2 separate regions of the Homo sapiens genome follow, and region 1 is linked to region 2. A link means that fine-mapping ties the variant in region 2 to the expression of a gene that starts in the linked region. Tissue or cell type: T cells. Region 2 holds a variant in brackets; the other region holds the start of a gene. All regions are shown on one strand. Distances are between the middles of the regions. Region 1 holds the start of C1QB (complement C1q B chain). Region 2 overlaps EPHA8 (EPH receptor A8).

Evidence for each region. PIP is the estimated chance that this variant, and not a neighbour inherited with it, causes the effect. A credible set is the group of variants that fine-mapping cannot tell apart.
Region 1: C1QB starts here. The variant in region 2 is the best candidate, but not a certain one, in a credible set for the expression of C1QB in T cells (TOPMed, PIP 0.77).

What each region holds. Positions count from the first base shown.
Region 1 is chr1:22,650,496-22,656,010 of GRCh38, forward strand. C1QB (complement C1q B chain) reads left to right here and starts at 2,741. Exons shown (of 3, transcript NM_001378156.1): 1 at 2,741-2,808.
Region 2 is chr1:22,580,672-22,585,671 of GRCh38, forward strand. All of the region lies in intron 3 of EPHA8 (EPH receptor A8), which reads left to right. Among named protein-coding and RNA genes, the nearest start is that of EPHA8, 20 kb to the left of the region's middle. The variant T/C (reference allele first, on the strand shown) is at 3,011.

The DNA.
Region 1 (5,515 bases), 70 kb after region 2:
GGGACAGCGTGAAGGCCACGGCCACAGCATCCACTGCTCTCCTCCACCAACCCCTTAGCTGTCGGCCGGGCGAAGCTGTGGGTGATATGTCTTTCTTCTCATTTCTCTTTTGTTTAAAAAATCAATACACCATTTATGTAGGTCACAGTGTCATATCAGAAACCTGTACTTTGGAAATGACAATTTTGTGCCATTTTTATTTTCCATAATTGTTTCCTTGTTGTTCTCTCTTCATCAGGGGGGCAAGCCTTTGAAAATGCCAACGTGTCTGCCTTGCTGAGGGGAGGCGGGGGAGAGTTTTTCAGTGGGGCAGGCAAGGAGGGGTGGACGTGGGGCAGGAGCCAGGACAAGACACCCCAAGCTGCAAGGAACCCCTTTCCAACCACAGGAAGGTGAGGGGGTGTAGGTTTCTTTTTCCACTCTTTGCAGGGATCAGGGATTTTCCACTCTCAATCAGGGATGTGAGTCCAAAATTTTGTAGGTACAGAGACCAGCTGGCTCCCATTAGCGGTCAAGGCCCAGGGACCCCTCAGCTCCTGATCCCCAAGTCCAGGCCTCCTCCTAATCCAGGCATGGCTTCTTTGCTCCTGGGTTCCAAGAATTCCATCTTCTCTTCATATAAGTAATACCGTTCCCATGTTTGCAGTGGGTGCCCACCAAGGGCTGGGCACTCACCTGGCCCTGGACATGGCAGGGGGACCTCGCTGGCCCCCAAAACAGCCCCAGGAGATAGGCGTTCATGCTTCCCATTTCTACACGAGGAAACTGAGGCCAGTAAACATTCCCGTGGCCACATAGTTAGCAAGACGAAGAGCTGGGATTCAAACTGCCAAAGTCCGTGCTCCTAACCCACCTCTGCTGCTTCCTGTTCTTAGCCTCACTGCTTCTACCCCAAATTGACATCCATCTTTTCCCATTGCCCTTAGCCACCTAAGAATTAGAGGCCCAGAGGCTGGGCATGGTGGCTCACGCCTGTAATCCCAGCACTTTGGGAGGCCGAGGCAGGCAGATCAACTTGAGGTCAGGAGTTTGAGACCGGCCTGGCCAACATGGTGAAACCCTGTATCTACTAAAAAAAAATACAAAAATTAGCTGGGCTTGGTGGCATGCACCTGTAGTCCCAGCTACCTGGGAGGCTGAGGCAGGAGAATCGCTTGAACTTGGGAGGAAGAGGTTCTAGTGAGCTGAGGTCGCACCACTGCACTCCAGCCTGAGCAACAGACTGAGACTCCATCTCAAGAAAAAAAAAAAAAAAAAGAACTAGAGGCCCAGAGCCACTCGGCTTTGGGAATGCTCAGAAGCCCTCAACTTGCAACCTACTAACTCGTTTCTCCCTTTGTGGAATCCAGTGTTTCTTCTCTTCACCCTAGCCTGGGTCCCTTCGGGACTATAGTTGACTGAGCTCAGAGACCTTTTGGTTTTATCAAACTTATCTTTCCCTCCTGTTCACCCATTGCAGTTAACACTTAATTTCCACCAAGCTGCATCCACAAGCCCAGTGAATTTCCATCTCCAAGCACAGATGTCAAGAGGGCCTCCAGCTCCTGGTGCTTGCTAGTCATCATGTCGTCTGAGACGCAGCCACAGGGAGAGACTGATATCCTAGTGCCAGGGATGCCGGCTTCCAGGTCTGCATCTGCCACCTCCATGAGGCATCGGCCCCAGCAGTCACGTCTTTCTGTGACATTTATCACAGAAGCAATGAAGCCTCATGTCATTCCGTGTTTAACACCAGTCTCCCCCCGTAGAAGGGAGGCCCCATGGGGGCAGGGACCATGGCTGATTTGCTAAGAGCTCTCTCTTCAGTGCACATGGAAGCAAACACTAAATATTTGTTAAATGGTGGGTCTCCCCTCTGGGCCTCAGTTTCCTCGTATATAAAATGAGGAGGATGGGCCGAGTAACCTCAGCCCCTCTCCGGCCCTAACTTGGCGTGATTCCAGGATCGAGAAGAAGCAACAGGCCCCTGCCTGGGCCTATTATTGTCATCAGCGTCCAGCCCTGCTGGAAGCAGAGGGAGGGGTATCAATAAATAATGAACACATTTAAAATTCATTATGAGATTATTTTCTGAGAACAGGGAAAGAGCAGGGGCACAGAATGGGAAGGAAGCAGAAGAGATGAGCCCAGAAAGGGGAAGCCTGGGACATGAAGTGATATTAACAATGAACACGTGCACAGCCCTTTACAGTTTACCCCCAGACACTTCCTCCCCCATCATTTCCTCCATTATCCTCCCAGTGGCCTGTGAGATCTGTATCTGTAGAGCAGGTACAATTATGGTCCCATCCTATAGCAGAGAAAATTGGGGCTCCCTTGACTGACAACACATCAACTGGCAAGTGGCAGAGGCGGGATTGGAATCAAAGGCTCTGACTGTAAGCCAGCACTCAGGCAGCGGGCCCGCCACATGATGCTCACTGAGGAACACCCCTGCCCAGTGTAGAAGAAGATCACGAGGTCAGAGAGCCTGGGAGGGTGAGCTGTGGATGTTCCCCCAGGACAGCGTGTTCTCCCCACAGCTGCTGAGTTGGCAGAACCAAACTTGCCACCCACCCGTCTCATTTACAGTAAATCCAGTGGGTTGCAGAAATAGGACCTGAAACTGCCTGAGGGCAGCAGGGTGGGGGGACAGTGAGGGGACGGGAAAGGGGCCAGCCTGCTGGTCCATGGGAGGGGACCGTCAGGGGAAAGCCCTTCCCGCCTCTGGGGAAGGGAACTTCCGCTTCGGACCGAGGGCAGTAGGCTCTCGGCTCCTGGTCCCACTGCTGCTCAGCCCAGTGGCCTCACAGGACACCAGCTTCCCAGGTGAGGACGGGGCTTGGCGCCTGGGGGAGGCTGGCAGGGCCAATATGGCAGAAAGTGGTGATTCCGTAAGTGTGAGCTTTGCGTCACCTGCCTCGGAGCCAGTTAGGCTGTTTAACAGTGCAGGTAGCTGGGCCCAATCCCAGACCTATGGGACCCAGATCTCTGGGGTGAGTTGGGGAGTCTGCTGCTACCCAGGGCCTAGCGGATGGGCAGGCCACCTAAAGCGGGAGCCTGGCACATAGGAGCTTTGGCATCGCAGAGACTTGAGCTGAGTCTGGCTCTGCACCTTATGTATTGGTTATCTTGGGCAAGTCACCTAACCTCTCTCAGCCCGGCCCCCCTACAGAGAACAGAATCTTTCAGCACTGCTGTGCCTTACAGGAGATCAAGCTTGCAAAAGCTTAGTGCATGCCCTGGCTCAAAATTTATCAGTAAACCAGAGGCAGGAGTGGGATTATAAGCCAGTCGCTCCTGCCCGGCCCAGCATTTCCCCAACACCTTGCTTATTTCCTCATACTCGCTGAGAAAGCTCAGCTTGACTCTTCCAAAGAAATAAGGGGATGTGCAGGTAGAGTTACGATGAGTTCTCAGCTAGTACTGAGTGAGCGCAATGTTTGTGCAGCTGGGGAGTGGGATGTGGCACTGCACGGGGCAGGGGGGACCTTATTTCTTCTAAGCGCCTTCTCCTGTCATCCTTCTGGCAGCCCTGTCAGGTTGAAATCAGCATTGCCAAGAGGCTCAGAGAGGTTAAGGCACTTGCCTGAGGTTATGCAGCCGGTAGCAGATGGGGCTTTAAAGTCAAGTGGGCCTGACTCCATGTTGCGGAAAGGGACTGCTGGACCGAAGGAGATGGAAAGGTCAGAGCCTGGGGGGAGGACAGGAGAAACCGCGCTGGCAATGATGATGGGCTGGCACAGGCAGGAGGCAGTTAAACCAGATGAGTTGTAAGCCCTAACCCAAGGCTGAAACTCGGTGGCTTTTGAAATGGGCTAGAACCAGCACTTTCCCACTCCCCCTGCCCCTGGCTTCCCCAGGAAGCCCAAGTCCTGTCAGTACCCTGCTCCCCACCCTCTCTCCCCACCAACTGGTCACAGCTCTCCACCCCTTGCTGCCTCCAACTGACAGAGCCCCTCCCTCTAAACACAGTCTTTCAAAGGGATTGTCTTTTTTTACTTCTCCAACCATCTTCCCTTCTGTTCAACCACTCAGGAATTCTTGGATGACAGTGATAATAATAAAATAGCTAATATTCATTAAGAATTTCCAACATGCCAGGCTCTGTTGGAAGCTGTAACTCATGTCCTCGCACATACCCTATGAGGGAGAGAGTAGCATTATCCCCACTTTATAGGAGGGTAAACTGTGGCCAGAGAGAAGGAGTGATTTCCCAAGTCCCTTAGCTAAGAAGCAGTAGAGACCTTATGTGAACGCTGAGTGTTGCTTTCCTTGTGACACTACAGGCTCCCGCCACCAGGTGAATGTGTGCTGCCTAACAAGAGCAGCAATCATCGTGGTGGTAAAAAGCCACTTTCACCGAACACTGACCATGTGCCTACCACTACCCTTGGTGTGTCCCATGCATTAGTCCTTTTATCAGGCTGTCTGGCTTCAAAGTTTATGTTTTTACCACCAGGTACAGTGGCCTCTTAACATAACATTGAGTTTTAAGATCCAGTGGATGTGGGTTTGACTCCCAGCCACACAGGAGCTGTGTGACTTTTATCAAGGTGCTTGCCCTCTCTGATCCCGTTGCCTCATCTGTAAAATAAGAAAGCAAGAGTGCATTCTCAGGGGCTGAATATCAAATTACAGGGGATAATGGCATGCAAGCCATCTGGCTCAGAGCCTGGCCTATACGTACCCAACTTATTAAAGTTGTTAAATTGCCATTTTGTAAAACCTTTAGCAAGAGCAAGAGTGAGAGCTGATGCTTATTCATGGATAAGCAGGACCATGCCCCTGAGCCACCCTGTCTTCAGAGCATAGAGCCTGACAGAACCTAAAGCTGTCACCAGCATTCCCTGGCCACACTCATCTTTACAGCTTCCTTTCCTTGGTGCACAGTGTCTGGCATAACTCAGGGCTTTCAGCAAGAAATTGATCAGGACTAGGCTGAGGGGCTGAGGCTGGTTTGCAGAGCATAGGAGCCAAATATCAGTAGGCCTTGTCTGGTCCCAGGGAGCCCTCCACATGCCAGACTCTGGGGTTGGGACAGCCAGCATGTGGCAGAGAGGGTAGGAGTTTGGCCACAACCCTGCTGTTAGAATAGTTTGCTGGGTGATTTTTGGGTAGGTTGCTTTCTAAGTTCCGATCCTCAGTTTCCTCATCTGCAAGATGGGAAATTAATCACAACCCACTTCCCCAGGGTGTTGAGAGGATCAGAGAACAGCAGCAATAGCAGTAGCAGCCACAAGTCCCAATGAGAGCTTGGGGCTCAAGGCTTTATGACTCTTTCCCATCCATGGTCTCACCTGGGTCCCTGTGGCCACTCTGGGAAGTAGGCAGAGACCACTCTGCTCCCCCATTTTAAGAGAGGATACAGTTCAGCCTCTGAGGAAAGGTTTCCTGGAGGAAGAAGGCTTTGACCCAAGCTTCGAATGAAGAAAAAACATTTGGATCTGGGCAAAGGTGGAATGGGCTGCCTCGAGAGGTAATGAGCTGCCCATCACTGAAACGGTGCAAACTATGGATGGAAGAGCCCTTGGCA
Region 2 (5,000 bases):
CTATTGCCTTCACAGCTCATAGCGGGGCGCATCACATACCAGCTCATTTGCTCATTGCAGCAAGGCAGGTATCACAATTCCATTTTACAGATGGGGAAGCTGAGGTGTAAGAGGTAGTGTTACCTGCTTAGGCCTTACAGCTAGTGAGAGCTGGAGCCTGAAGACAGGTCTGTATTGCTCTGAGCCAGGTACAGGCTTTTAGCGTCTCCCTAGCCTGCCCCAGGCTGCTTTGTCCGCCAGAGCTGCGCCAAACCTCCCCTCATTCAGGTGGGGCTAATGAAGGACCTTAGTGATGATTTTTCGTCTTTGATGTAATAATTATCCATTCTGCTGAGCATCTACTGTGTCCCGGCATTGGGGATACAGGTACAGGGAGTCCCTGCCTCTGGGGACTTAGCAATTTCTTATCCTTACAACAGTCCTTTAAGATAAGTATTATAGTCCCATTTTACTGATAAGAAAAACTGAGGTCCCTCAACTTAAGTAGCAGAGTAGTGATCTGATCCCAGGTTGCCTGACTCCAGCACCTTCAATTGCTTCCTCTGTGCACAAAGCCCTCTGCAAAGCCCCACTTCCCTCCTCCCTGGGGTAGCATTCGGATGGATGGTTAGCAACTGGTACAGCATAAGTCATAACAATCTGGCTGGTTGGCCGGTGCATACGCACTCAGGGTCGGCCACCGTCCCCAAGTCTGGATTTAGCCAGCGAGTACAAATATGCCAATTATTTGTCCCAGGTGAACTGAACCACATCTGTCTGTAGGAAGAAGACCTGCCCTCCTGTCTTTGGGGTCAAGACCTCGCTTGGAGGTCTCAGGTAACGCTGCAGTCTCCCTGTGTGGCAGAAGAGGGAAGCGGAGCCCAGAGAGGGGATATGTCTTGCCCAATTTTCTCAGCACATCAGGGGTGGGGCTCTGAGTGGAAACCCCAGGGCCTGAGTGGCAGGACCTCACGGGGGCTGGGAGAGGCCAAGGCCACTCCTATTTCCTGGCACTGCTGCCACATTAATAACAAATAAAAAGAAATGCCAAAGTGGGGTTAGGGAATTGCAGCATATTTTGAATTTTACATTTAAATAATAATACAACGTAATTATGCCAGTTGCAAGATAATTACAGGTTTTATAAAAAATATTAATTCATAGTGCACTGCAGGCAGTGAGATTTGGGAACGGAAAGCCCGTTTTAAGTCGCACAAGGAAAGACATTTCTCAGCCCCGTTGGTGGCTTCTTTGGCTGCGTAACCTCATTTGGGAAGGTCAGCACGGGTCTCAAACTAAGGCCTTTCACAAATGGGAGCCAGGTCCAAGAGCCCTGCCTGGTCCCCCTTTCTACCCCTGGAGAAGCCCTTGACCTCTTTGGAGCTGCCCGGCTCCTTGGTGGATGGCCTGGGGCAAAGGAAGGGCTGGGAACAGAGTGGGGTACCTTTCCTGGGATACTTGAGATGTCTTCTGCAATCTGGGACTGCCCCTGCCCAGCCTGAGGGAGTCTTCAGGAGACCTGCTGAGGTCCATGGGGCCCCTGCCTGGTTTGAGAACATCCTGATCCCTTCTGGGCAGTTCTCTCAGCAAACAGTTAAGGAGAGGAAGGGCGTGGAGTCAGGGGGTCTCAGCTTGCCCAGTCCTGAGCCCTTGTCCTTCTAGTGACAGGAGCAGGGGTTGAGAGCCTGAGACCCACAGCAGGGGCCAGGCCCCCTTCAACAGCTGCCCTCCCTGCCTTGGGTTTTGCCCTTAGAGGTACCCTCAGAAGGTGGCCAGGCAGTACTTGATTTTGCAGAAGACAGTATAGCCTGGGATAAGGGACCCGCCAGGTCACATGGCTCTTTAGAGGCCTTGCTTAGATTGCACTCAGACCTCAAGAGACCCATGGAAAAATGTCAGAGCCATGTGGGGTTCGTCCAGTTTACCACTGGGGAATTGGAGGCCCAGAGAAGTGAAGTGACTAGCCCAAGGGCACACAGCGAGGGGTGGTTGATAGAATCTCACATCTCCCAACTCCTTGCCCAGAGGAAGCTCCCCACACTCCACAACTCCGGATCCAGTGACCTCCCCACACCAGACTGCACTTCCCAGCACCCCCCGCACCCTGGTTCACCCCAGAAAGAGGAAGGGCCTCTCAGCGCATCACCCAGCGGAGCAGCAGCTCAGAGTCTGAAGTCCTGGTTGCTGTCCTTCCTGTCACCTGGACGCAGAATATAAATCACCCTTCGCGGCCCTAATCATCTTTCTATAAATATCAGAGAGTCTCATTTCGGAGGGGGAGCAGGAACAGTGAGCTCTTTTGCCTTCCTGACTGTGTTTAAAATCTGATTTAGAATTAATTTCCTTTGGTTGTCCACCAGCGGACACCTTATTTGTCAAATCTCCGGCTCTTTGCGGGGGAGAGCAGAGAGGTGGCCAGGGCCACAGGCAGCTGCTGGCCTGACAGGCGGCCTGGGCAAGGTGCCCTCAGCAGGGTCAGGAGCCCCTCCTGGCTCGCGGCCCAACACCCGGGCACGTGCAGGCTCCGGAAGCACCCTGGGTCGACAGGCAGGGCCGGGCCCCAGCCCAGAGCCACTCCATCTGTCTCAGCCATTAATTCCCGGCCCAGCCTCCAGGTCTCTGGGCTCCCTGAGGCCTGGTGATTAGTATTCTTATTAAAGATTATTTTATTTTCATTGCGTGGATTAATCTGGCCTTGACACATTATAGCCATATGGGTATTAGCCGAGTGTGTGAGAACTGCCGACTGGTGAGCCACAGCGGCGCAGCCATCTCTCAGCTCTGGGACGGTGCTGGGAGGACGGGGGGAAAGGCCATAGCTCCAGAGGCTCCCCCGCCTGACTGCACATTCTGGCTCTGCTGGGAACCTGGGGCAAGGCATTCAGGCTCCCTGAGCCTCTGTTTCCTCTTCTGTCGAACAATTGTAAGAATTCCAACTACATCAAATTGTTATAACAACAAGTGCCAGGCACTGCCCTGGCATGAATTTATGTGTCTTCACTCATGTCATGCTTGCCATCTCCCTCTAAGG[T/C]GGGTAGAATTATGATCTCCACCTTAAAGACGAGGAAACTGACTTCCAGCACCTTGCCTAATGTCACTGAGCTCAGATAAAGGGGGTTAGACGAGGACAGGAACCCAGGTGCTACACCCGAGCTTCTGCTCGGGCCTGACAAGGACCAGGTGGGCCCTGGAAAGGGTCAGAGACTTGCAGGGCCAGCCGTGGTGCTGGCTTCCCTCAGGCCCCGCATCACGCCATGAGGCTTTGCCTGTCCGTCTGCCAATGCCGTGGAAGCTCCCTAAGAGCAGGCCCAGCTCTTACTTCTCTTGGGTCCATAGTAGAAGCTCAGTAAATGTTGGGGAAAGGAATAAATGAGGGAGGGAAGAAGCAAATGGTCTCTGAGATGCTAATCGTTGTGGATTGGATCATTACAGTGAGGATTACTGTCATTCAGCTCAGTAACAGGTTCAACAAATATTTGCTGACAAAATGCAAAGCCCTTTTCTGATGATGCCACCCCCAGCGGCCCCCGGGGCTCAGAAGGAGCCTGTGCCCAAGGCTGTGCCCCAGGACTGAGCCTCCCGGGGGGCTTCTGGGAAGAGGAGGCGAGATCACAGTGTGTCAGTCAAGACTCCTCACGACTCCGAGCTCCTAGACCTGAGCTCAGCCCCCAGGCAGACCAGAGCCCTCTTGGGATCCTCTGGAGGGGAGGGAAAGATGTTGCAACAATGGTGCGTATTTTCCCCCACTCTGCAACTTACAAGCTCTTTCTGGCTCTGCAGCCTTCTAGAGTATGAAGCAACTTCAGGGCGTTACCATTTCTCCTGACTCCAGGTTTTCTCTCAAGTTTGTAGAATTTTACAAATGAACCTGGTTTTAGCTTTTGTAATAAAGAGATACGATCAACATCCAGAGAAGAAATGCTCTGCAGTGGCCTGATGTCTTTGTAATTGAAGGTTCTCTCAGGCACTGAGTTTTCCAGAACAGGATTTAGTGGAGAGAGAACCACAGTGAGCTTCCCAGTGGTCCCTGTTGCAAAGGACTTCAGTTCCATGGACGGAGCCGGGAGCTGCCTGGCTGGGTGGCATTTGGCCCACCTGAACCTCTGGGGTCTCTGCCCAGAGCAGATAATGGTGGGATCCATTCAATTTGAAAACTCCTGCCTGGAGTTTAACAGCATCTGCCCAGGGCTAGCACTGGACCAGGTTCTGGGACATTGAGATGAATAAGGGAGTCGTACTCTGTTTGCAAGGATCTGCCCACGGGGGCCTCCCAGTCTAGAAGGAGAGTCAGCACTGACAAGCGAGTACAGCCATAGTGTTGCAGGTGGTGAGGCCAAGCAGGGGCCGCAGGAGCAGGGCGGGGAATGGTCGTTTCTCTGTGTGTGTGTGTGTGTGTGTGTGCGCACGCGTGTGTCTAGAGTTCCAGAAGGGACAGTCAAAATTAATCTTAAAAGAGGAGCTCAGTAGGTGGACAGAGGAGAAAAGGCAGCCCAGGAAGCGGGCACAGCCTGTGCAAAGGCCCCGAGGCAGGAATCAGACTGCTGGGTGTGGGGATCGGCCAGTGCTTTAGTTTGGCCTAAGGATGGGGGTGAGGGGCAGCACTAAACAAGGCTCCAAGTGGGTTTTGGCTGGGCAGGGAGGGATTTGAACACCAGGTTTCATTGTCTAAGCCCTGGGGAGCCTGTGAGGCATGAAACAGGCAGTGACTGAGTGAGATGTGCATTTTGGAGACTCCCTCAACCTAGGGTATCCCCCTCCCTGCACAGTGGACTCCTTATTCTTTAGGCCACAACTCAAATATCATCTCCTCCTCTGGGAAGTAGCTCCTCCCACCATTTACCCTTCCATCACCTTAGCCCCCTTGTTCTCTCCCTCCCTCCTAGCAGTGATCCCAGCTGAGAGCCAGTGGCTCTGGTTCACAGCCCTCCAAGGCCCAAACAGGCCTGGTCCAGAGTTGTGCTCATGAACAGTGGTTGACTGAATGCATGATCACGCAGGCAGCTGGGTGGGGGGAGGCAGGG